Homo sapiens: one gene and its partners. The protein of the gene in region 3 interacts with the protein of the main gene of each other region in a pairwise test. Each region holds a gene or a part of one and is shown on either strand. Other genes may lie near its edges.

Evidence for each region. Proteins that work in one complex are often made in the same cells at the same time.
Region 1: the proteins of ZNF16 (region 3) and FAIM interact in binary tests that used the Homo sapiens proteins (3 or more experiments, as listed by UniProt).
Region 2: the proteins of ZNF16 (region 3) and ZXDC interact in a two-hybrid assay, tested with the Homo sapiens proteins (one study listed by IntAct).

The regions. Positions count from the first base shown.
Region 1 is NC_000003.12:138,611,331-138,619,877, reverse strand, and holds part of FAIM (fas apoptotic inhibitory molecule 1), read right to left. Parts: intron 168-8,547; coding exon of another isoform or gene 152-167; coding exon 108-151; intron 1-107. UniProt on the Homo sapiens protein: Plays a role as an inducible effector molecule that mediates Fas resistance produced by surface Ig engagement in B cells.
Region 2 is NC_000003.12:126,464,785-126,473,331, forward strand, and holds part of ZXDC (zinc finger protein ZXDC), read right to left. Parts: intron 7,522-8,547; coding exon 7,369-7,521; intron 7,268-7,368; coding exon 7,189-7,267; intron 6,242-7,188; coding exon 6,111-6,241; intron 1,542-6,110; coding exon 1,371-1,541; intron 1-1,370. UniProt on the Homo sapiens protein: Cooperates with CIITA to promote transcription of MHC class I and MHC class II genes.
Region 3 is NC_000008.11:144,928,786-144,934,355, forward strand, and holds the end of ZNF16 (zinc finger protein 16), read right to left. Parts: intron 3,806-5,570; coding exon 1,953-3,805; 3' UTR 1,573-1,952; downstream 1-1,572. UniProt on the Homo sapiens protein: Acts as a transcriptional activator. Promotes cell proliferation by facilitating the cell cycle phase transition from the S to G2/M phase.

The DNA of each region.
Region 1 (8,547 bases), on a different chromosome or scaffold from region 3:
TTTTACAAAATGTATTCTTAACAGAGTATCTTGGATAAATCACTCTTTTGAATGATAACAATCTTGAAAATGTCAAAGGCTAGTTTACTGCAATATAAGACATTTACCTTTCATCATCTTCAAAGATAGGACTGTCATCTCCAGATGCCATGGTTGGCAAAAACAGTCTTTAATCCAATTAGCAGCCAGGAAAGAAAAAAGCAGAATTGCAGCAAAGAAAGATTGAAAGCAACAATGATGACATCTACAAAGGGTTTTTCTAATTTTGCAATCCATTTATTAAATTACATGGAGTTTCAGATGAAACAGCTTCTACATAAAATAGAATTGCAATCTTTAATTCTCAGAGAAAGATGTTACATCATGCAAATCAGTCAGTCATATTTTTCCCTGTTATGGATTTATAATTTCTTAAAGGTATACTTTATCAAAACTAAAGAACAAACTCTCCTTTGTTGCAAGTGTTATAGCATATCAGAGCTGCAAGAGACCTAAGAGATCCTCTGGGTCCTATGCTTTTCAAGTTGAAGCGTAAGAAGCCCCAAGGCTATGAGTCAGGGAATACATCAAACTCCAGGATAAACACAATGTATCTTCTGGGAGCATCAATGTTAAAGTGGCAACTAATTTAAAATGTAATCTTTATTTTAGAAGGCTACACTATGGTGGAACATAACTTTCAAAATCTGTTTAGATAACTTCAAAGAACTAATGAGTTTGCAAGAAGCAGACAGGGATATGCTGGTCTGCTCTCAAAGAGTGAACTTAATTTATCCCCTTACTTAAGCCCATTTAATTTACTAGTGCCAATGATGAATCCACAAAAGTTATGTGCCTTGCTCATGTAACTGGCAGGATCCAACCCAGAACTAGAGCCCAGTACTGTACTATGCAATGAACTAAACAGTAACTGGGCTGCAGTGTTAATTAAGCTGTACTAAAATCAGAAGTGCACATAAATTCACATGCATAGGAAACCCTCACATTTGAAGATTTGGGATTAACAGTTTCACTCCTGCCAAAGTATCCTAAATTCAACTATTTTTTGCTTCCAAGATCTATCCTAGTTTAGCCCTTTCCTTAATTAGTGCCTGTTTCCTACAGATGCTCAAGAATGCTCTCTCCTGGTTAAAAATGGGAGACTGCTAACCCTTTCTGTCTGGAAACAGCCAGAAGTCACAAATTATTAAAAAGTTTTTTGTTTGTTTTTGAGACAAAGCCTCACTCTGTCCCCCAAGCTGGAGTGCAGTGGCATGATCTTGGCTCACTGCAACTTCTGCCTCCTGGGTTCAGGCAATTCTCATGTCTCAGCCTCTTGAGTAGCTGGGACTACAACTGCATGCCACCACATCCGGCTAATTTTTTGTATTTTTAGTAGAGATGGGGTTTTGCCATGTTGGTCAGGCTGGTCTCGAACTCCTGGTCTCAAGTGATCCACCTGCCTCGGCCTCCCAAAGTGCTGGGATTACAGGCATGAGCCACCACATACCCAGCCAAAAAGATATTAAAGAAGAAATTAGCACTCATAAAAGCAATCCAACGGGCCAGAAAAGCCAAGGATTTTAGAATAAAAACTAGATAAATATTTGTACCTAAAATAAATCTCTCTTTTATAAAATTAGCACCACACAAATTTGTGAACTTTTCTACTCTTAAGGATTATCCCCTATGAAACCAGAGGGTATCCTACAACAATAAAAACAAAAAGAATACATAGCAATATAATAAGCCAGCCAGGCATGGTGGCATGCACCTGTAGTCCCAGCTACTGGGGGAGGCTAAGGTGGGAGGATCGCTTGAGCCTAGGAGTTAGAAGCTGCAGTGAGTGGCTGCAGTGATCATGCCACCGCACTCCAGCCTGGATGACAGAGTGAGACCCTGTCTCAAAACAGGTATCTATATATATACTATATATAATATATAGTTACTATATACACTATATATACTAAATATACTATATATAATATAGTATATATAGTATCTATATCTATATGATCTAATTAGATATCTAATTAGATAATATAGATAGATAATATATAGATATATACTATATATAAATAGTATCTATGTCCAAAATAATAATATATATTATATATTATATATAGTAGATACTATATACATACATATATATATACACACACACGTATATACACAATGTAATTATATGTACTCCAGCCTGGGTGACAGAGTGAGACCCTGTCTCAAAACATATATATATATATTATATATATAGATATGATATATAGATCTATTATAGATAGACAGATAGTATAAGATAGTATAATTACATGTACTCCAGCCTGGGTGACAGATATAGATAGACAGATAGGTAGATAGGTAGATAGAGAGAGATATATATAGATATACATATCTGTTTTGAGACAGGGTCTCACTCTGTTGCCCAGTCTGGAGTACATATAAATACTATATATATATTTATATACATATTATATTTATTATATATACATATTATATATAATATATACATATTATACATACATATAATATAAAAAATAAGCCAAACAGCATAATATAAACTTTGATAAGGCATCCTTTGTAAATCAGAATGTATTTAGGGGTGCTATTCAAGTTTTGCTCTTCAATTTTCAGAGACTCTAGAAAGTTCAGTAATGTAGGTATTCAAACCTAAAACAATTGCTCTGTTTTCTATTATAAGGAATTCCAAATACTACTAAATCACACTAAGATACAACATCTTAATTATAATACCTTTTCATGGAGAAGTATAAAAGGCAATACCACCAATTATAAGAAAGATTAGAAATCATGATCACATTAAAACATTTTTTCTTCTCTAAACTATGAACAATCATTCAGGCATTCAACAATTATTTAAGGACTACTTAAAAAATAGCAATTTTTAATTCTCCAATAATTAAAAGTGTACATGACAGGAGAGGATTATAAACAAAGATAAGAGTAAGTACTGAAGCAATTATCTGGCAAATTTGAAGCATTCTAATTCTACTTATATAACTATATATCAAAATTGATGTTTCTTCTTAAACCAAGTAACAAATCAATATAAAATTTGTTACTCTCTTTGCCAGTTTTTCTCTGATTAAATAAAATGTTGTTTTAATACAAAGTAATATTTCAATTTTCTTGTTCATGCTATCCATTATTTTAAGCAAAACACTAAAAAAATCTTTTTATAAATGGTTAATAATTATAAAATACTGTTATAATTACTCCTTGGAGTGTGCATGGTGGCTCATCCCTGTAATCCCCGCACTTTGAGAGGCTGAGACAGGAGAATCATTTGAAGCCAGGAACTCGAGACCAGCCTGGTCAACAGAGTAACACCAAAAAAAATTAGCTGGGTGTGGTGGCACGTGCCTATAGTCCCAGCTACATGGGAGGAGGGAGGATCGCTCGATTCTAGGGGTTTGAGACTGCAGTGAGCCATGACCATGCCACTGCACTCTAACCTGGCCAACAGAGCAAGACCCTGTTCCAAAAGCAAAAAACAACAACAACAAAACAAACGAAATTATTCTTTGGAACATTAAAAGTATATTCAGCTTATAAAAGGCTGAAATACTTCAAATTTTGTACCATTTTAAAAGGCAGAGATTAACTTTAAAAACTGCTTTCTATGCAAGGATTAAAGTGACCAGTATCTTATAACAACAGCCTTAACCAAAATATGAGAGAGTCATACAATTTTCAGCACTGGAAAACAAAAAACAATAAAATCACCTGGTCTAGCCTCTCTCCTTCATTACGGGGAAATCAGTAACACATATCCCTCCAAGTGCCATCTCCACTGCCAGTCCTGGGTTCTTATTACCTATCCAACTTTCTAACAAAGCTGTAGAGGGTGCCAATAATGCACACAGAGCAAAGAAAACTTTTCAAATGATCTTACCACAAACAATAATTCCCATCAACAAATCCCATCTAATGTTTAAGAAAAATGTCCAAAATCAACTCTGCCTCCTGCTTTTGGGCTTCTCTATCACCTATCCCAGCAGTTTCACTAGTCTTATGACCTCTGTCAGTTTACACATTCCATTCCAATTTCACCACTTTAAAATTTAATTGAAATTGCTCTTCTGGCTCAAAAGCAGGAGAGCACACATAGAAAACACTCTTAATAGCCACAAATGCAACAGGTTAACAGACTGACATCTGTTTTTTGGCCATTCATATCAGGGAAAATCATTAAAAACCACTAGTCAACTCATCAAATGCACGTAAAAATATGCCCACTAGTGAGTCTTTAGGGAAACATGAAATAAAATAGAGATTTAGGTTAGAGGTCTGAAAGGAAGTAAACATGAATAATTATTCTAAAAGGCACTAAAGCACAGAGATCAATGTTTACTTAAAACAGACTTTAAGATACTTTGGCCCATCAGCTGATTTTTCATTTTGAGAATATCCTCACACAAAAGTCAACTTACTTCTTCGTAACTGGTGATTCTCTGGATGGTCTATACAAAGTAATATCAGAATGAGCAAATGTAATCCATTAACTCAACAAATAGTTAAATGCCCACCAAATGTTCTGAAAGCACTCCAAAGTCAAATACAGATGGTCCCCGGCTTATAATGGTTTGACTTAATGATTTTCCGACTTTAAGATGGTGCAAAAGAGATACGTGTTTGGTAGGAACCATACTTTGAGTACCCATACAACCATTCACTTTCACTACAGTACAAAAAATTACAGGAGACAGCCAAGACTTCATTGTAACATAGGCTTTGTGTTAGATGATTTTGCCCAAATGTGGGCTAAGGTAAGTATTCTGAGGACACTTAAGGTAGGCAAGGCTAAGACATGATGTTTGATAGGTTAGGTGTACTAAATCCATTTTCAACTTATAATATTTTCAACTTGCAATGGGTTTATTGGGATATAACCCCATCACAAGTCAAGAAGCATCTGTACATGTTTTTGTTTTTGTTTTGAGACAGGGTCTTGTTCTGCTGCCCAGGCTGGAGTGCAATGGTATATTCAATGCTCACTGCAGCCTCAACCTCCTGGGCCCAAAGGATCCTCCCACCTTAGCCTCCAAAGTAGCTGGGACTACAGGTACACACCACCACACCCGGCTCATTTTTGTATTTATGGTAGATATGAGGTTTCACCATGTTACCTAGGCTGGTCTTGAATTTGTGGGCTCAAGTAATCCACCTGACTTGGCCTCCCAAGGTGCTGAGATTACAGGCATGAGTCACCGCACCTGGTCGTACATGTCTTTTAAATTTTTCTATGGTTTTGTATGATTTGCAGCAGCTATGCTCTATTTGTTTTCTCAAGGGGAGATGTACCTTCACAACAAAAGTTTTCTTATGATAAATGTCCAGGCTTCAGTTTTTCCATTCAACATTTGAACCTGCTATCAAGAGATACTGTACTAGACGCTGTCAGAAATTTGAAGAAAATCCTTCTTTTTTTTTGTTTTTTGAGATAGGGTCTCACTCTAGTCATCCAGGCTGGAGTGCAGTGGTGCGATCTCAATTCACTGCAGCCTCGACCTCCTGGGCTCAAACAATCCTCCCACCTCAGCCTCCTTAGTAGCTGGGACCATAGGCATGTGCCACAACACCCAGCTAATTTTGTAATTTTTTGTGAAGATGAGGTTTCACCATGTTGCCCCAGCTGGTCTCAAACTCCTGAACTCAAGTGATCCTCCCACCTCGGCCACCCAAAGTGCTGGGATTACAGGCATAAGCCACCATGCCCAGCCTGAAGAAAATGTTTCTGTCCTTAAAGAATTTGAGAGTTCAGAAATAAATCCACATATCTGTGGCCAAATGATTTTTGACAAGGGTGCCAACTCTAACTGGTGGGGAAAGAATAGTCTCTTCAACAGATGTTATGGGGAAAACTAGATTTTCATACACAAGAGAATTAAGTTGAACCTCACCTATCTCACACCATATACAAAAGTTATCTCAATGATCTAAATGTAAGAGCTAAAACCACAAAACTCTTAGAAGAAAACATAGAGGTAAATCCTCATGATCTTGGATTTGGCAATGGATTCTTAGATAGGACACCAAAAGGATAGCAGCAAAAGAAAAAAATAGATAAATTGAACTTCATCAAAAGTTAAAACTGACTGGGTGTGGTGGCTCACACCCGCATTCCCAGCAATTTGGGAGGCCAAGGTGGGAGGATTGCTTGAGCCCAGGAGTTCAAGACCAGCCTGGGCAACATAGGGAGACCCCATCTCTACAAAAAAATTTAAAAACTAGCCAGGCATGGTGGTGCATGCCTGTAGTCCCAGCTACATGGGAGGCTGAAGTGGGAGGATCACTTAAGCCTGAGAGGTCAAGGCTGCAGGTGAGCTGTGATTGCACCACTGCACTCCACCCTTGGCAACAGAATAGACCCTGTCTCAAAAAAACAAAAACAAACTAAAATTTTTGTGCATCAAAGGACATTATCTAGAAAGTGAAAGGACAAGGATGAGAGAAAATATTTGGAAATCATATATCTGATAGAGGTTTCATATTCTGAATATATAAAGAACTCTACTGCTCATAAACACAAAAGACAACCCAATTTAAAAATGGGAAAGGGGCCGGGCGCAGTGGCTCACACCTGTAATCCCAGCAATTTGGGAGGCTGAGGCGGGTGGATCACCTGAGGTCAGGAGTCCGAGACCAGCCTGGCCAACATGGTGAAACCCCATTTCTACTAAAAATACAAAAAATTAGCCGAGTGTGGTGGCAGGCACCTGTAATCCCAGCTAGCTACTCGGGAGGCTGAGGCAGGAGAATCGCTTGAACCCAGGAGGCGGAGGCTGCAGTAAACCAAGATCATGCCATTGCACTCCAGCCTGGGCAACAAGAGCAAAAGCCTGTTTCCAGGAAAAAAAAAAAAAAAAGGCAAAGGACTTCCACAGACATTATTCTAAAGAAGACATACAAATGGTCAATAAGCACATGAAAAGATGCTAAACAACATTAATCACGACAGAAATGCAAATCAAAACAACAATGAAATACAACTTCACATCTACTAGGATGGCTATACTAAAAATAAACAGAAAATAATCAGTGTTGGCAAGGATGTGGAAAAACTGGAATCCTTGTACATTGCTAGTGGGACTGTAAAATGGTGAAGTTGTCATACAAAATGATATGACAGTTCCTCAAAACCTAAACAGAGAATTACTATATGACCTAGCAATTCTGCTGCTAGGAATGCACTCAAAAAGTTTTGAAATCAGCCACTCAGACACCTGTATACTATTGTTCATTGTAGCATTTTCCAATAGCCAAAAGATGAAAACAACCCAAGTTGTCCATCAACATAAGAATAAACAAAACGCGGTACATACACTTGATCTCGGCCAAAAGGCTGAGAAGTGATAAAATGCATATATATACAAAGGATATTCCTTTTCATTCAGCCAAAATAAGGAGTGATATTCTGACATATGCTATAACATGGATGAACTATGAAAACTTTATGCTAAGTGAAATAGCCAGACAAGGCCGGGCGCGGTGACTCACGCCTGTAATCCCAGCACTTTGGGAGGCCGAGGCGGGCGGATCACGAGGTCAGGAGTTCGAGACCATCCTGGCTAACACGGTGAAACCCCGTCTCTACTAAAACTACAAAAAAATTAGCCAGGCGTGGTGGCGGGCGCCTGTAGTCCCAGCTACTCAAGAGGCCGAGGCAGGAGAATGGCGTGAACCCGGGAGGCGGAGCTTGCAGTGAGCTGAGATCGCACCACTGCACTCCAGCCTGGGTGACAGAGCGAGACTCCGTCTCAAAAAAAAAAAAAAAAAAAAAATAGCCAGACAAAAAATGACAAATATGATTCCACTTATATAAAATACCCAGAAAAGGGACATTCGTAGAGGCAGAAAGCAGATTAGATGTTCCCTGGGAATGGGGGAAGGGAACAATGAGAAGTCTCAGTCTCTTTCATGCTGCTACAAAGGAATACCCGAGGTTGCATAATTTATAAAGAAAAAAGGTTTATTTAGCTCATGATTCTGATGTCTGGAGAAGCTCAAGATTGGGCATCTGCATTTGGTGAGGGCCTCAAGTTGCTTCTACTCATGGCAGAAGGCAAAGGAGAGCTGGCTGTGTAGAGAGCATGTGACCAGAGAGAAAGCAGGAGAGACAGCGGGGAGGTACAAGCTCTTTTTATCAAACAGCTCTAGTGAGAACTGATAGAGCAAAAACCCATTCACCTCCAAGGGAGGGCATTAATGTATTCACTGGGGATCAGCCCCCATGACCCAAACACCTCCCATTAGGCCCCACTTCCCAATACTGCCACACTGGGGATCAAATTTCAACATGAGATTTGGTAAGTACAAATATCCAAACCATAGCACAGAGTTATTGCTTAATGGTTACTGTGTTTCTGTTTAAGGTATTGAAAAGTTTGGCAAATAGATAGTGACAATGATCGCACACTATTGTGAATGTACTTAATGCCCCTGAATTGTACACTAAAAAATTGTTAAAATGGCAAATCTATGTTGTATATATTTTACCACTTCAAAAAGTTAATTATATTAGAAAGAATTGTATACTTTAAATGGGTG
Region 2 (8,547 bases), on a different chromosome or scaffold from region 3:
GCAAAGGTGACACCCTCCAACATGAATCAGGTGGCACGCACATTCCGTGTCCTCAAGACACTACTAAAGCCAGAAGGGCAATTTATTTAAATATAAAGCTGAACGGCAACTGCTGTAAACTGTGAAAGATCAGTGTCCAAGATCCCAAGGAGGGGCTTCATGACCACTTCTAAATAGGATCACAAGAAAGCAAAGGCCACAGAACTGCCCTGAGCCCAACCCCTCACCAAACTCTGTGCGAGGCATGGAGGCCTGTCCCTTGCCAACGCGGCAGCTGTGACACAGCTGCGCCCCAAAGCCGGTGCTCTGCTGTGGTGCTGCTGGTCACACAGGAGACGTGAGGACCCAGTTGGTGACACACACAGCCTCCACGGACTGAGCAGCAGAAGTAACTCTAGGGCCAGCTAGGATGCCATCAGCCAGGCCCGGTGAGGAGCGACAACCGCACCAGGGCCCAGAGAATAGGGCACATGGGTGTGCTCCCCAGAGGGGCCGCCACCACAGCTGCCAGGCACTTCTGTATCCTGGACTGTGGAGAAGGCCTAGTGGGGTAGGTTTCCTAGTCCCATGCTGCAAAGCTGCCCAATGACTAGGCACTCACACACTCAGCATTCCCCTCACAGGTCACCAGGCCACCGTCACTTTCCTCTCTAACCCTGCCCTCTCCAGCCCTCGTTACTCCCAGTCCACTCCTGAAACACAACTCTGCTCTAGCCTTTGTTACTTGGAGATAGAATAGCTGAGGCAGACGGAAACACAGGAGGGGCAGGTTCAGAATTCAGGACAAAAGTCCCAGTGAGAGACACAGGCTTAGGGGACATATGCTAGGGAAAGTCAACAAAGTGAAACATTCTTCCAGGAAAGCATTTCAAAGACATGGGAGGGGCAGGGCATGGTGGCTCATGCCTGTAATCCCAGCACTTTGGGAGGCTGAGGTGGGCAGACTGCTTAAGGCCAGCAGTTCAAAACCAGCCTGAGCAACATAGTGAAACCCTGTCTCTATAAAAAATGCAAAAATTAGCTGGGCATGGTGGTGGATGCCTGTGGGCTCAGCTACTCTGGAGACTGGGGTGGGAGGATCACTTGAGCAGGAGCCTGAGGTTGCAGTGAGCCATGATCACACCACTGCACTCCAGTCAGGGTGACAGAGAGGGACCCTGTCTCAAAAAACAAAAGACATGGGAGGGATTAGAGGGTCAAAGGCAAGAAAGTGGCAGAGAGTGCAAAAGAGGCCACTTGGCTTGGCAGCCACGCCCACAACCCCACTGCCTGACGCCTTCCAAGAGGTGAAGAAGGAACAGACGGCACTGGCACTGTTCCCGTTTCTCACAGGGAAGCAGCTCCCCATGGGGGCCGTGGAAAGTGCAGACCTTGGCGCCGGCTGTGCTGTCTGACCATGTGCGCCTTCATGCTGTGCTTGGAGGTGAAGAGTCTGTTGCAGGTAGAAACTGGGCAACGGCTTTTCGGAGCACCCACATCCTGCACGTGTTTCTTAGAGTGAATGTACAGACTGCTACGAGCGGAGAACCTCGCGCAACATCCTGGAACAAAAAGAGTAATGAGAGTGAAACCCAAGGATCACCAAGGAACCAGGAACAAGTGACACTTCCCCATCAGATCAGAACCACCAGACCTGCATTTTGCACCCTGGCTACTGGCAAGGACAGAGACCAAATATCTCTAGAAGTAGCATCACAAGCAATTCAAGTCAAAAGCAAACTGTTTTTAAAAAGCAAGAGATACAGTGAAACCCGTAGGGAGATTTGAAGTCCTACCTCAGCTATGCCTAAGCAACCTCTGTGCCTGTTTCTTCACCCACTACATGGAGATGTTGGGAAGATTAAGTCAAATTAAGTATTAACTGCTTAAATATTCAGTTGAAAACAATTTATTCTAGTCATCTCGATTAAGCTATTATCATAAAAAATGTAATCCTAGGATGACATTTAGAGCTGGAAACTATCTTGACAGATCACCAAAGCCAGTCCTTTCACTTTCCCACTGAGACAATGGATGCCCAGGGAGACTGAGCAGGTGTCCTGGAGCCCAGAGCTGGCAACTCCTTGCTTACACTCCCAGTCCACTTATGTCTCTGATCTGCACACAGGCATCAGAGGAAAAACAAGACACATTCAAAGTTACAATCACCTCCCCTCCGTGCCCTGGCTTTCTACTACGCTGGAGCTCTGCCCCATATGGACACAGGAAGGAGACGTGGAGCTCTTGGCGGTCAGAGGCCTATGACCTGGTAGGGGCAAATAGAACAGCCAGTTGCTGCAACAAAGGGCAGAAGGAAGTCAGTGCCAACACTGAAACATGCAAGCAGCAGAGGAAACCACACACCTCCCGAGAAGGCAGAAAAGCGGTCTCAGGAGTATGCAGCCCTCGAGGTGACTGGGCCACCCTGCAGCAGAGCAGATGGTGCTCCTGCCGCAGGAGCTGCCCAGCCAAGGCATGGGGGCATGAAGGGCAGCAGTGCAGGCACCCCAGCCTGGGTTCCAGTTCAGCCTCTTACCAGCAGTGTGGCCTTAGACAAATTATTTATCTTTTGCGGGTCTCCTTTTTCTGTTCTGTGAAACGGGAGTGACACCTACCTCACAGGGGTGCTGAGGGCCCAATAAAGCCATACCTGCCTACAGAGCCTCTGCACGGGCCTAAGCAAGTGGTGCGAGCAACGACGCACTCGCGGCACCTTCTTAAGACGGTGGGGTGGTACTGCCAGAGCCCAGCGCCTGGAGGAGGGATATTTTAAGGAAAGAGGCTATGAAGATAGGATACGGCCAGATGAGTAAGGGCCTTGGATGCCTGTGAATATAGTTTTCAACTACATTTTTCATTTTCTAATACAGCTGCAAACTCGTTTCCAGGTCAGGCTCGTCAAAAACCATCTGGGAAACAAAGGAGACAGTCCGACGGCCCAGGACTGCCCTGCAAGCGCGCAGTTTCCTCTGCATGCCCTGCTCACCATGGTACACAGGGTACCCTGGAACCCCCTTTCCCAGCTGGGGGTCCTGAGCACGGATTTCTAGAGACAGGTCACAGAGCAGAGGCTCTGAGCACATCTTCTGTCAAATGCCTTCTTGATGGCAGGGCCACGCTACAACAGGACCCTTGCACACTCTTGCCAGCACTGGGTTTCCATTTTTTAAAGTACTTGCTAATTCCATAGGCAAAAAATATATTTCATTTTGGTTTGTATTTCCTGCGACAACCAGGAATGTAATCATTTCTCCAAGTGTACTAACTGCTGGCTTTTCCAAATTCTGCCAGTATATTGAGATCTGTTTCCATTCTTTACAAATCCAAGCTGCAACCAGGGAGAGGCAGAAGCAGCCATCACTGACAGACCTGTCTGCAAAGCTGCATTCAGAGGACAGTGAGGCGCTCACATGGACGGCCAGGCAAGCACAAGGCTCGGCAACACGAGACACAGGCCCCAGCACACATAGCCCCGAGGCCGCAACGAGGCCACCCAACACCTGCCCTCAGACATACTTCTGGTCTGTGGCCTTGTCCTTTCCTCCTCCTCCTGTTACTACAAAAAAAGGTAGTTTTGCCTTCTACTTTTTATTACAGAACAGTTCAAACACCTACCAAAGTGGAAAAAATGGTGTCATCAGCCCCAACTATTGCCCAACCCCAAGAATGATCAACTCTCAGTCCAGCTGAGAAGAGGTTCTGGGCTCCTCCCACCAGCTCCAACTCCATCTCCACGTGCTGCCCATACACCACGTGGGGAGTGCCCAGTTTCTCTCCCAGCACAACACCTAGACTTGCTGGAAGAAACAGAGCTCTACAGAAACAAATGCCCTATCCTCCACGGCCAACTCCCACCTTTCCCCTTTCCCCAGTCACCTCTGGCAGAAGTGTCAGCACAAACCATCCCCATCTCCCACTCAGGCCACCTCTCAGGGCACCAGAGCAGGACTCTGCCTGAGTGACCCACGGAACCTCATCCATCAGCACACCAAGACAACCCCGCAGGTGGCACCGAGGCATGTGTTCCCTGGTCCTGGCTCACCCTAGCACTCCAGGTGACCCCCACTTCCACACATTCCCCACTCACCTCAGCACCACCCCCACTGTGCTGTTGCTGGTCCTGCCAGTACCCGTCCCAGCCACTCCACCGGAATCTGGGGCAGCCCCAGGGCTCTGTCCTAGGTCCTTTTTAAGAAAATCTAACAGCAATCACAACAACGACAGTAACTGACATATATACTGATGTTTTCCATATGCGCTAAACTTAGTAACCAATCCAGCCTTCTCAACAACCCTGGGAGGTTTTATTCACTTTACAGATAAGGAAGAGGCACAGAGAGCTTCAAGTGTTTGTCCGAGGCCCCAGACCTACTTACGTGGCAAACTTAGGACTCGAATCCAGGCAGTCTGACTCCAGAATTCAGGCTTTTGATCAACTACACTACCCTGACTCTCCTCCATTTATACTCTTCTTTGAGAATTTCATCCACTTTTGTGGCTTAAATGATGATTCGGGTGCTGTCTGCTTCGCTCCCTGCCTGGCCTGCTCTCCCCAGCACCAGTGGCACATCCCCTGCCCTCTGCGCATTAGACGCACAAGGGTACCAAAAACACAACATGTCCAAACCAAACTCTGCTTCCTCCAAATCCACTCAGCTGACACACTGACATCAACTAAAATCCAAATCCATCACCATATACTGTGACTTCTAACTCCCACCTCTGCTATTGATGCCCCTTTCTCTTTTCCCACTGTTAAGGCCCCCGTCCAGGCCATCCCACCTCCCCACACCCCTGGCTGCTTTCAATCCTGAAGCCAGGCTAAGCCACAACTCAAACATGATGACATCATACGCTCACCCAAGCACTCAAGCCTGCCACTCCTGGCCCTGAGAGGCTCTCCCAGGCCACTCCGCCTCCAACACCCACACGCACGTGTCTGGTGCTCTCCCCTCTTCTTCAGCTGACCGCGAGGCCGTTCTCACCCCGGTCTGGGGAAACTCTCTGCGCCCCTGCAGCACCCTACATGTTACCTGTTCCCCTGTCTGCACCTCCAGCTGAAACTCTGACGGAAGGAGGAACTGTTTCTCAGTTACACCACTTGTATATATGTTCATTATGTTCTAAGAGCTAGGCTCAGCTTTAAATGGGTCTTTATTATTCTCTCTTCCAGGTAAGGAAACCAAGGCCCAGAGAAGCAGCTTGACTGAGGCCACCACTTTAGGGAGCGGTAGAGCCAGACTTTGAATCCATGACCACCCGACGTGTCCTGGCTCACTGCCTCCCAGTGCACCTGCAGAACTAGAGTAGGGCCAGCACGCACAAGTCACGCACAGGTCACGCAGCCAATTTCTGGCAAATGAACTGAGCCTTCAGTGTTTTAAAGGAAAAAACCACTCTACTATACCTTTTAAAAAGTCAGGTTGGGCGTGGTGGCTCACACCTGTAATCCCAGCACTTTGGGAGGCCAAAGTGGGTGGATCACTTGACGTCAGGAGTTTGAGACCATCCTGGCCAACATGGTGAAACCCTGTCTCTACTAAAAGCATAAAAATCAGCCAAGCGTGGTGGCATACGCCTGTAGTCCCAGCTACTCAGAAGGCTGAGGCATAAGAATCACTTAAACCTGGGAGGCAGAGGTTGCAATGAGCCAAGATCACACCATTGCATCCAGCCTGGGTGACAGAGCAAGACTGTCTCAAAAATTAAACAAAAAAAGAAAAAGTCAGTCTAGCTTTACTGCTCTCCAATTACAAAATGATTGGAGTGACAATTCAAACGTGATCTCAAAAGTACCTACCATTTACTGAGTCCGAGCTCCATGCCAGATGGATAAACAGGCATTTTCCACATTTCACCTAATCCTCACGACCACCAAATTAAACAGGTAACTTAACTAGAGCCACAGATCTAATGAGGATCAGGGCCATGAGTCAAACTGCGTCTGATTCTCAAGTCACTGCTCCCAAAATAGTACAATTAACTCAATGAGGTAAGTAAACATAATGCTGCAACTTATATTGAGTCAGTCTTTAAGCAGCTAACATTTACCTTTAAACAACGGAAACTTAACAGGATAAATGTTGGCATTGCACTTAGTTTACTGCTCAAAGCAATGTTTTAAAATCTACCTTCCACAGGACACTCGAACGGCTTTGTGCCTAGGTGGGTTATGCTGTGGCCTTTCAGATGCTCTGCTCTGGTGAATGATTTCCCACAGCCCTCGACAGGGCAGGTAAACCTCCGGTCATCGTCATGTTTCCTGCCAGACAGAAAAATAAAGGAGCTGTGATTCCTCACACAACTCACCATAATTCTTTAAAATTCTACAAAACATACCAAAACACAAACTTTGCATTTACAAAAATGATCAGTACATTTCGGAAAATCTTAATTCTGTCTTTAATCCATGTGAGCAGATTTGCAATTTAGCTACCCCATAAAAATTCTACTTTAATGACTAAGCTGACCCCAGAGTCACACATCAAACAATTAATGCTACTTCAATCTAATATAAGCTAATCTAAGAACAGTGGAGTCCCAAATGTATTGATGAAGGTGTTTCTATTGTTTAGAAACCCCAATGATCAACAAGCTTTCCGAGCGACAGACGGTCGTGAGAAATGTGCACAGAGCATCAGCTGCAATGCCAAAAGGACTCTCTTAAGCCAACTTGTAAAGACTGTGTCTTTTCCTAAGTGACATTTTTATATTAAATCCTCAGAGCCCAGCTGTGCAAGTACAGAAAAACCACTGAATCTCTCCGAGTCTCACTGTAAAACAGGGAGAATAAGAACATTAGCTTTGAGGTTGTTGGGAAGGTAGAAGACACACATGTAAAGTGCTGAGTGTCACCTGGACACAGTCTCCAGGGTTGTCATTACCACCATGAAAACTTGTAATTACATGAAGAAAGCTTATTCTACAATGTTAAGTTAAAAAAAAAACCTGGAATTGTTTTTTTTTTAAGAACAGAGTATGCCAATTTAGCTTTTTTTAAAAAAAGTATACACAGAAAAAACTGACTTCAGGTGATGAGATTCTGAGCAATTTTCTTTTTACAGTTTTCTGAATTTTCCAAATCATCAACACTGAGCTCCTTTTTTAACAACTTAAAAAATGTCTACAGATATTTCATTCATTGGTTTCTGCTGCTGACAAACCACTCATTTTCAAACCTGATAATGCAAACCAAAATGTAAGGATTACCTTCTGTGCCTTAGAAGTTTGGACATGCTGGTGAAGGTCCAGCCACAGCTGTCAGAGTCACAAATAAATGGTCTTTCACCTTATAAAAGAAAAAATTATACAGCATAAAATTTACAACTCCAACAGCTACGATGAAGACAAATCTTGGGTCCAAATGCTGTGCGTTCCCTAGCTCATTACCTGTATGGCTCCGCAGGTGAATTTTCAGCCGACAGGCTTTATCATACTGCTTGCTGCACCCAGGAAAGGAGCAGGAAAAGAGCTCTTGTTCCCTGAAGTGGGCTCGGTTATGGGAAAACAGGGCACTCACTGTGATAAATGTCTTCTCACAGCCTGAACAAGGAAAACACAAACCCTGCTCAAAGCGTGGCAAAAATTATACAACATAGCTAATGCTAGTCACACCCACCAGACCCTGTTCACACTGAAGCAGACAAGGGAAAACATGACTCAGAAGCACTCTCTAAAAAGGGAAGACCATTAATGCTTGGCTTTGTGATCACCACAGGAAGGCAGCTAATGGCAGCCAATAGGCACACGCTGGCCACCTGTTGCAACATGACTTGGAGATGGAGCAACCGATAAAGAGAAAGTCCTCCGTTCACAGCCATCTACTGGCCGGCTCCGGAGCACTGATCCTGCACACACACTGAGACCCAAGAACCCCATGAGAGAAATCAAATACTAAGGAACAAGATTTTGTCTGGTAGGGTTGATCTTTGAAAGGCTACAAATCATCCTACTAGCCAGGATTTTTCACCCCTTGGGGGTGATGCTGCATCCTCTACATATCCAAATTTCCTCCCTGACACCCTCCAACTGCCAGCCCTGTCCCTTGCTGTTTGGATTCTTTTTCCTTTCGCAATTTCCTTAGGTTCCCTGCTTTGTAATCTTCACCTCAATCCTAACCCCTGGCCAAAGCAGCTAAGCCTCAACAATTCCACAGCAATACTTCTCCTCCGACAGAAACATTCAGGGCTCCAACAGGGTGGAAAACATGAGGCTGCAGGATGTTTAACAGGAGTCTTTGCTGCAGCTCCTCTTGGAGCCTTTAACGAGATACTATCATGCCTATGAACTGCCACACAGATGTACATGGCATAGCACTGCCCAAAAGTATCAGCCCAAGGAACCCTACTTTCCCCAGCAACATCTAACTCAGAAATGCTGATCTTTGGCCTCAATCTGGTCCCAAAATACCTCCAGGGTATTTTGGGCTTCGGTGTGTTCACACACTTGGTCATGTAAATCTGAACACAGACTCTCTCTGCCTTGGCAAGAACCCCCCACACCCCCATAGATAATTACACCCTTTGGTTCTCCCTCTGCAATCTCACCTGCTAGAGACCCTCATCATTC
Region 3 (5,570 bases):
ACAAGACTTAAAGCAGAGTTAAATAGGAAAATTGGACTTCCGCATGCTCACCTAGGTCACAGCAGAGCCGTGGGATTCCTAAGTAGTCAGCAGTTCCCTTGGCAGGGGAGCTCCATGGGATGATTCTGGATTCTTTCCTGGAATCTCGGACTCCAGTCTATTTCATCAGCTCTCTTAGTGTTTCTGTGAGATACTAATTTTTGGTTAATGTTAGTAATGCCTAGCAGAGATTGCCAAGGACTAGGTACAGTTAAAAATACTTTACATGGCCCGGCATGGCAGCTCACACCTGTAATCCCAGCACTTTGCAAGGCTGAGGCGGGTGGATCACGAGGTCAAGAGATTGAGACCAGCCTGGCCAACATGGTGAAATCCTGTCTCTACTAAAAATACAAAAAGTAGTTGGGTGTGGTGGTGGGCGCCTGCAGTCCCAGCTACTTGGGAGGCTGAGGCAGGAGAATCACTCGAACCCGGAAGGTGGAGGTTGCAGTGAGCTGAGATCGCGCCATTGCACTCCAGCCTGGGTGACATAGCGAAACTCCGTCTCAAAAAAATAAAATAAAACACTTACACATACCATTTTATTCAATCTTCACAAAACTCTTAACTGCAGTAAGAACTCAGTCAACACTTAGGTCTTGCATCTCTCCAGAGGGCGTACTGTGTGTTGGGGAGTGGTAAAGAGGATGGATGCTCTGTGGCTGTGGGAACTCTGCAGCAATCACCCACCTGCACACAGCCAACCACTCCACAGTACAGAATAGTCCCTTGGTCACAAAACACACTTTAACTCCTGCAAGAACTCTTGAGTCCCAAGAGGCAACTTAGGTCACAGGGAGCATCCTAAGGCAGGGTCAGCAAACTTTCCTATCAAGGACCAGAAGTAAATACTTTGGCTTTGTGCACCATATGGGATCTATCACAACTGCTCAATTCTGTGGTACAAAAGCTGCCACAGCTATCTGTAAACAAATGGGCATAGCTGTGTTCCAACAAAACTTTTATCTAAAACAGGTCAGGGCTAGGTTTTCCATGAAACTGTGTCCTGACACCCCCAGACCTGCTGGCCAGCAGGGAGGGGCCTCTCAGCATCTGGGCTTTCTCCTTGCTCAGGGAACAGGAGCACAGCTCTGAGAACTAAGGATGGGGGTAAGTGAGCTAGGCCCTCAAGGCAGGGCACTTACTAGGTGGAAAAAACAGCCTGGAAGCTCATGGGCATGAAAATGAGGTCCATGGAGAGAGCTTCCTCTGTGGCCCAGAAACTAGAAGCTGGAACAGCCATGTGGAACTGTGCAGCAGCCCAGAACAGGATATGGGGGCCTAAGTCACAGCAGACCAGTGAGAGGAGAAAGCTGACCTCAGATTGCAGATCTGTATAAAGAAAAGTAGGGTGGCGGGGGAGCCTTGGGTTCAAATTCTGGAACAGGAGGGACAAAGAAGGGCAGGGAATTGGTGGTGATGAGTAGGTACCACTTCTGGGGAAGATGACAGAGCAACTGGACCTGAAAAACTCTCGACTTACCTAAAATATCAATTACAGCCAGTGACAAAGAATTCACGCCACACAACTCATTACCAATCAAACAAACTACTATGGTTATCTCAAACCAAACGTCACTTTACTTTTTTGGTAACTTTTCATTATAATAATAAACTCTATTCATGAATATGCAGCCTCCATAATCTTCTCCCTTGTAACAAACGTGCAGTCCGTTCACAAGCTGTAAAAACAAGCCCAAACCCAAGACATCACAAGAGGCAAGAGCAGTGGCAGTGAGAAGGGAGCCTGTAAAGGATGTTTCAAAGGAGGGTCCCAGGCTATGTGGCCACTGGATGTAGGCAGTGAGCTGAGTCCAGGCTTTCGGTCTGGGAAGTGGCAGAGGCTGAGACAATGGCCAAAGAGGAGTTGGAGAGGAAACTATGCTCGGTTTCACTCCTGCCAGCCCAACAGCCTATTCCCTGGTGTGAATCAACTGGTGTTTGATCAACTTTGATCGCTGGCTGAAGGCTTTCCCACAAGCAGCACAGTCATAGGGCTTCACCCCAGTGTGAATCCTCTGGTGCTGGATGAGGACCGAACGCTGACTGAAGGCTTTCCCACACTCACTGCATTTGTAGGGGCGCTCGCCCGTGTGGATTATCTGATGCTGAATGAGGTGTGAGCTCTGGCTGAAGCCCTTACCACATTCAACACAGGTGTAGGGTTTTTCCCCAGTATGAACTTTCTGGTGGTGAATGAGATTTGAGCTTCGGTTGAAGGCTTTACCACACTGGTTACATTCATGGGGCTTCAGCCCATTATGAATCCTCTGATGCTGAATGAGGGTTGAGCTCTGGCTGAAGGTTTTTCCACATTCAGTACATTCATAGGGCTTCTCTCCAGTGTGGACTCGCTGGTGAAGGATGAGGTTGGAGCTGCGACCAAAGGTCTTCCCACACTCGTGGCAGGCGTAGGGCTTGTCGCCTGTGTGCACGCCCTGGTGCTGAATGAGGGCTGAGCTGTGGCTGAAGGCCTTCCCACAGACACTGCATCTGTACGGCTTCTCTCCCGTGTGGATGATCTGGTGCTTTCGGAGCACTGAGCTATAACTAAAGGCTTTTCCACATACATTACACACGTGAGGCTTTTCTCCAGTGTGAATTCTCCGATGCTGAATAAGGCTGGAGCTCTGACTAAATGCTTTCCCACAGTCACTGCACTTATAGGGCTTCTCTCCAGTGTGAACCCTGTGGTGCTTAATGAGGTTGGAGACCCGACTGAAGGGCTTGCCACAATCATTACACTCATAAGGCTTCTCTCCAGTGTGGACCCTCTGGTGCTTCCTCAGGTGTGCACTCTGGCTGAAGGCTTTCCCACACTCGCCACACTCAAAAGGCTTCTCTCCTGTGTGAGTCCTGTGGTGTTTGATGAGGTTTGAGCTTCGCCTGAAGGCCTTCCCACACTCACTGCACACATACGGTTTCTCCCCAGAATGGATTCTTTGATGTTGGATGAGGTTTGAGCTCCGCCTAAAAGCCTTCCCACATTCATTGCATTCATAGGGCTTCTCACTCATGTGAGACTTTTGGTGCTTTTTAAGGCTCGAGTTCTGGCTGAAGGCTTTTCCACATTCATTACACATATAAGGCCTCTCACTGCTGTGGTGACTCTGATGCCTAGAAAAGTCTGAGTGCCCTCGGAAGGCTTTCCCACATTCGCTGCACTGGTAAGCTTTCTCACTCATATGAGATCGATGACGGTTTTTAAGAACTGAGTTCTGGCTGAAGGTTTTCCCACAATCATCACACATAAAGGAAGCCTCCCCAGTGTGGACTATTTGACGCTGAATAAGGTCAGGATTTCCTTGGAAGGTTTTCCCACACTCATTACATATGAGTGGACTTTCAGCTGTGGGAACCCCCTCATGACCAGTTAGGTCCACACTGTGCTGGAAACTCTGGCCACCCATGTCATATGGATGTGGCCTCTCTTCTGTAGGGATTTCCTGACATGCCATCAGGTTTGGGCTCAGACTGAAGCGACTGTCAAAACCATTACAGTCCAGATCTTTCTCCCCTAAGGGGCCCCTAAGGAGCCCCATGGCAGCTGGTGTGAAGTCCCCCTCCTGGGAGAGGGACTGTGGCAGCCTCCTGCCTTCGGGGACTCCCCAGTCTCTTTCTGATACATCATCACACAGATCTCCAAGCTCGGGTACCTGGGAAACATCACCAGCATAGTTTTCTGATATTTCTGCCTGTGATTCCAAATCTTCATGAATGTCTTCCTTGTGAAGAAACTCCTTGTCTTCAGTCCTGGTGTCACAATCTGAAACAATAAATAGAATATCACTTGGAAGGCAGTGCTGCAGCAGGAGCAGGAACATAGACAGTCACAGTTGCACCCACTAACTGTGGAGGAGGCAAGGGGAGCAGGGGATCCTCTGGGGTGGCAGTCCAGATCAGAGGGCATCAGGGAGGGGTGGGAGGAGCACTGGGTGATTAGGCTGCATGGGGCTGCAGATGAGTGAGAGCTCTTGATGACCACGGACCCACCCTCCCTGGGACTCCACATCTCAGCAAACGTTACTGCGGTCTACCTTCTGGCTCAGGCCAAAATCCTGGCTGTCCCTTGACTCCCCTCTTCCTCGACACCCACACCAAACCACTGGCAAGTCCTGTCAGCTCTACCTCAGAGTGCAGCCCAAATCCAGGTGCTTCTCACTTCTCCCACCTGTACCAGAAAAACGTCTCACACCACTCCTTACACTGTTACATATTTCACCCTTTTTTCTGTCCACACTGCCAGGTGTGAGCCTTACCAGCCTATCTCCAGTTCTGTCAGTGCATGCTAATGGCACTGAGCTTGGTCTTAGGAGTCACTAGTGTGGAGAGAGACCCCGTTGTACACAGAGAAGAAACCCAGCTGGCTCTCAGGGCCTGGCAAGTTGAGTTGCATGGAGGCATCATTCAACCACTCCTGTGCGGCAGGGACCTGTGTGGAACATCAGATTCCATCCTGTTCAACAGAGGACCCTTTAGAGACTGCTGTGTCCTGTCAAAGCCACCTGTACCTCTGAAAACCCACAATTCTGACTGGTGTTTGCGGATGACTTCTGGCCTCGTAACAATGTGCGTCATCTTTCCGCAGACAGAAATGCACACAAAGCTCCGTGTCTGCCAGAAAAGGCTTCAGCATCTCCCTCTCCCCTTTTCACACCTGCAGAACAAAGAAACCCTCATGTCCCTGTGTCCCTTACTCAAATGAAGATGTCACGAGTCTCTCATTCAAACTGACATCCCAGGCCACACTGCCACCTGGATGCTGAGCAGCTTCCCTGGCCCCCAACCTCCCCTCCTGCCCACAGCCTGGTGACATCAGACCCAGCACTGTCATGCACTCAAACATCCTCTCAGTGCCTCCTGGCCCTCCTAGACCCCACCTCTACCTCTGCTCCTGCTATACTCTGAGCAGGGCAGATGTGTCCACCTTTGGGTCTGCCTTGCCCAGAGCACTCTCCACATGGCCCTCGTGCTACCCACTTCCCTTGCACAGGCCTTGCTGGAGAGCCCTTCCCTGATCATAAATGCCAGCACCCCACCTACTTTCCTTGCCCCCACCCTGGCTGTCACCCACAGCCTGGATCACTCCCTGAAACAGGACTGCATCCCCCAAAGTGGAAGACCTCTGGTCTAGCTGTAGTCGGTAGTGCTGAGTGGGTGTGAAGGATGCCCCTCCAATGCCCCTCCCACCTTGCGGCGTCCACTCTGCTCCCTCCCTGCCTCTCCCTGTCTGGGACTTCCAGAATCTGCCATAACAGCATTCCATTTCCACCTCCAGTCTGGAATTGTCTGTTCCCAAGGAGCTGTGGTGTCAACAAAGATCCAAACCGGCCCAGCTCTCACCATGACCCTCCTGGGACTTGCCCCTCTACCCACTGCACCCACGTGTCTCTTGGTGACACTTCATGTTGGGTCACTGGACACCTGTGGTGCAGACACATCGTGCTGTGCCACTTTCAGCCAGAACACCCTCTTGCAGCTCCCTACTTCCTGGAGTCTGGGATCAGGCCTCTCCTCTCCCACAGAGCTGC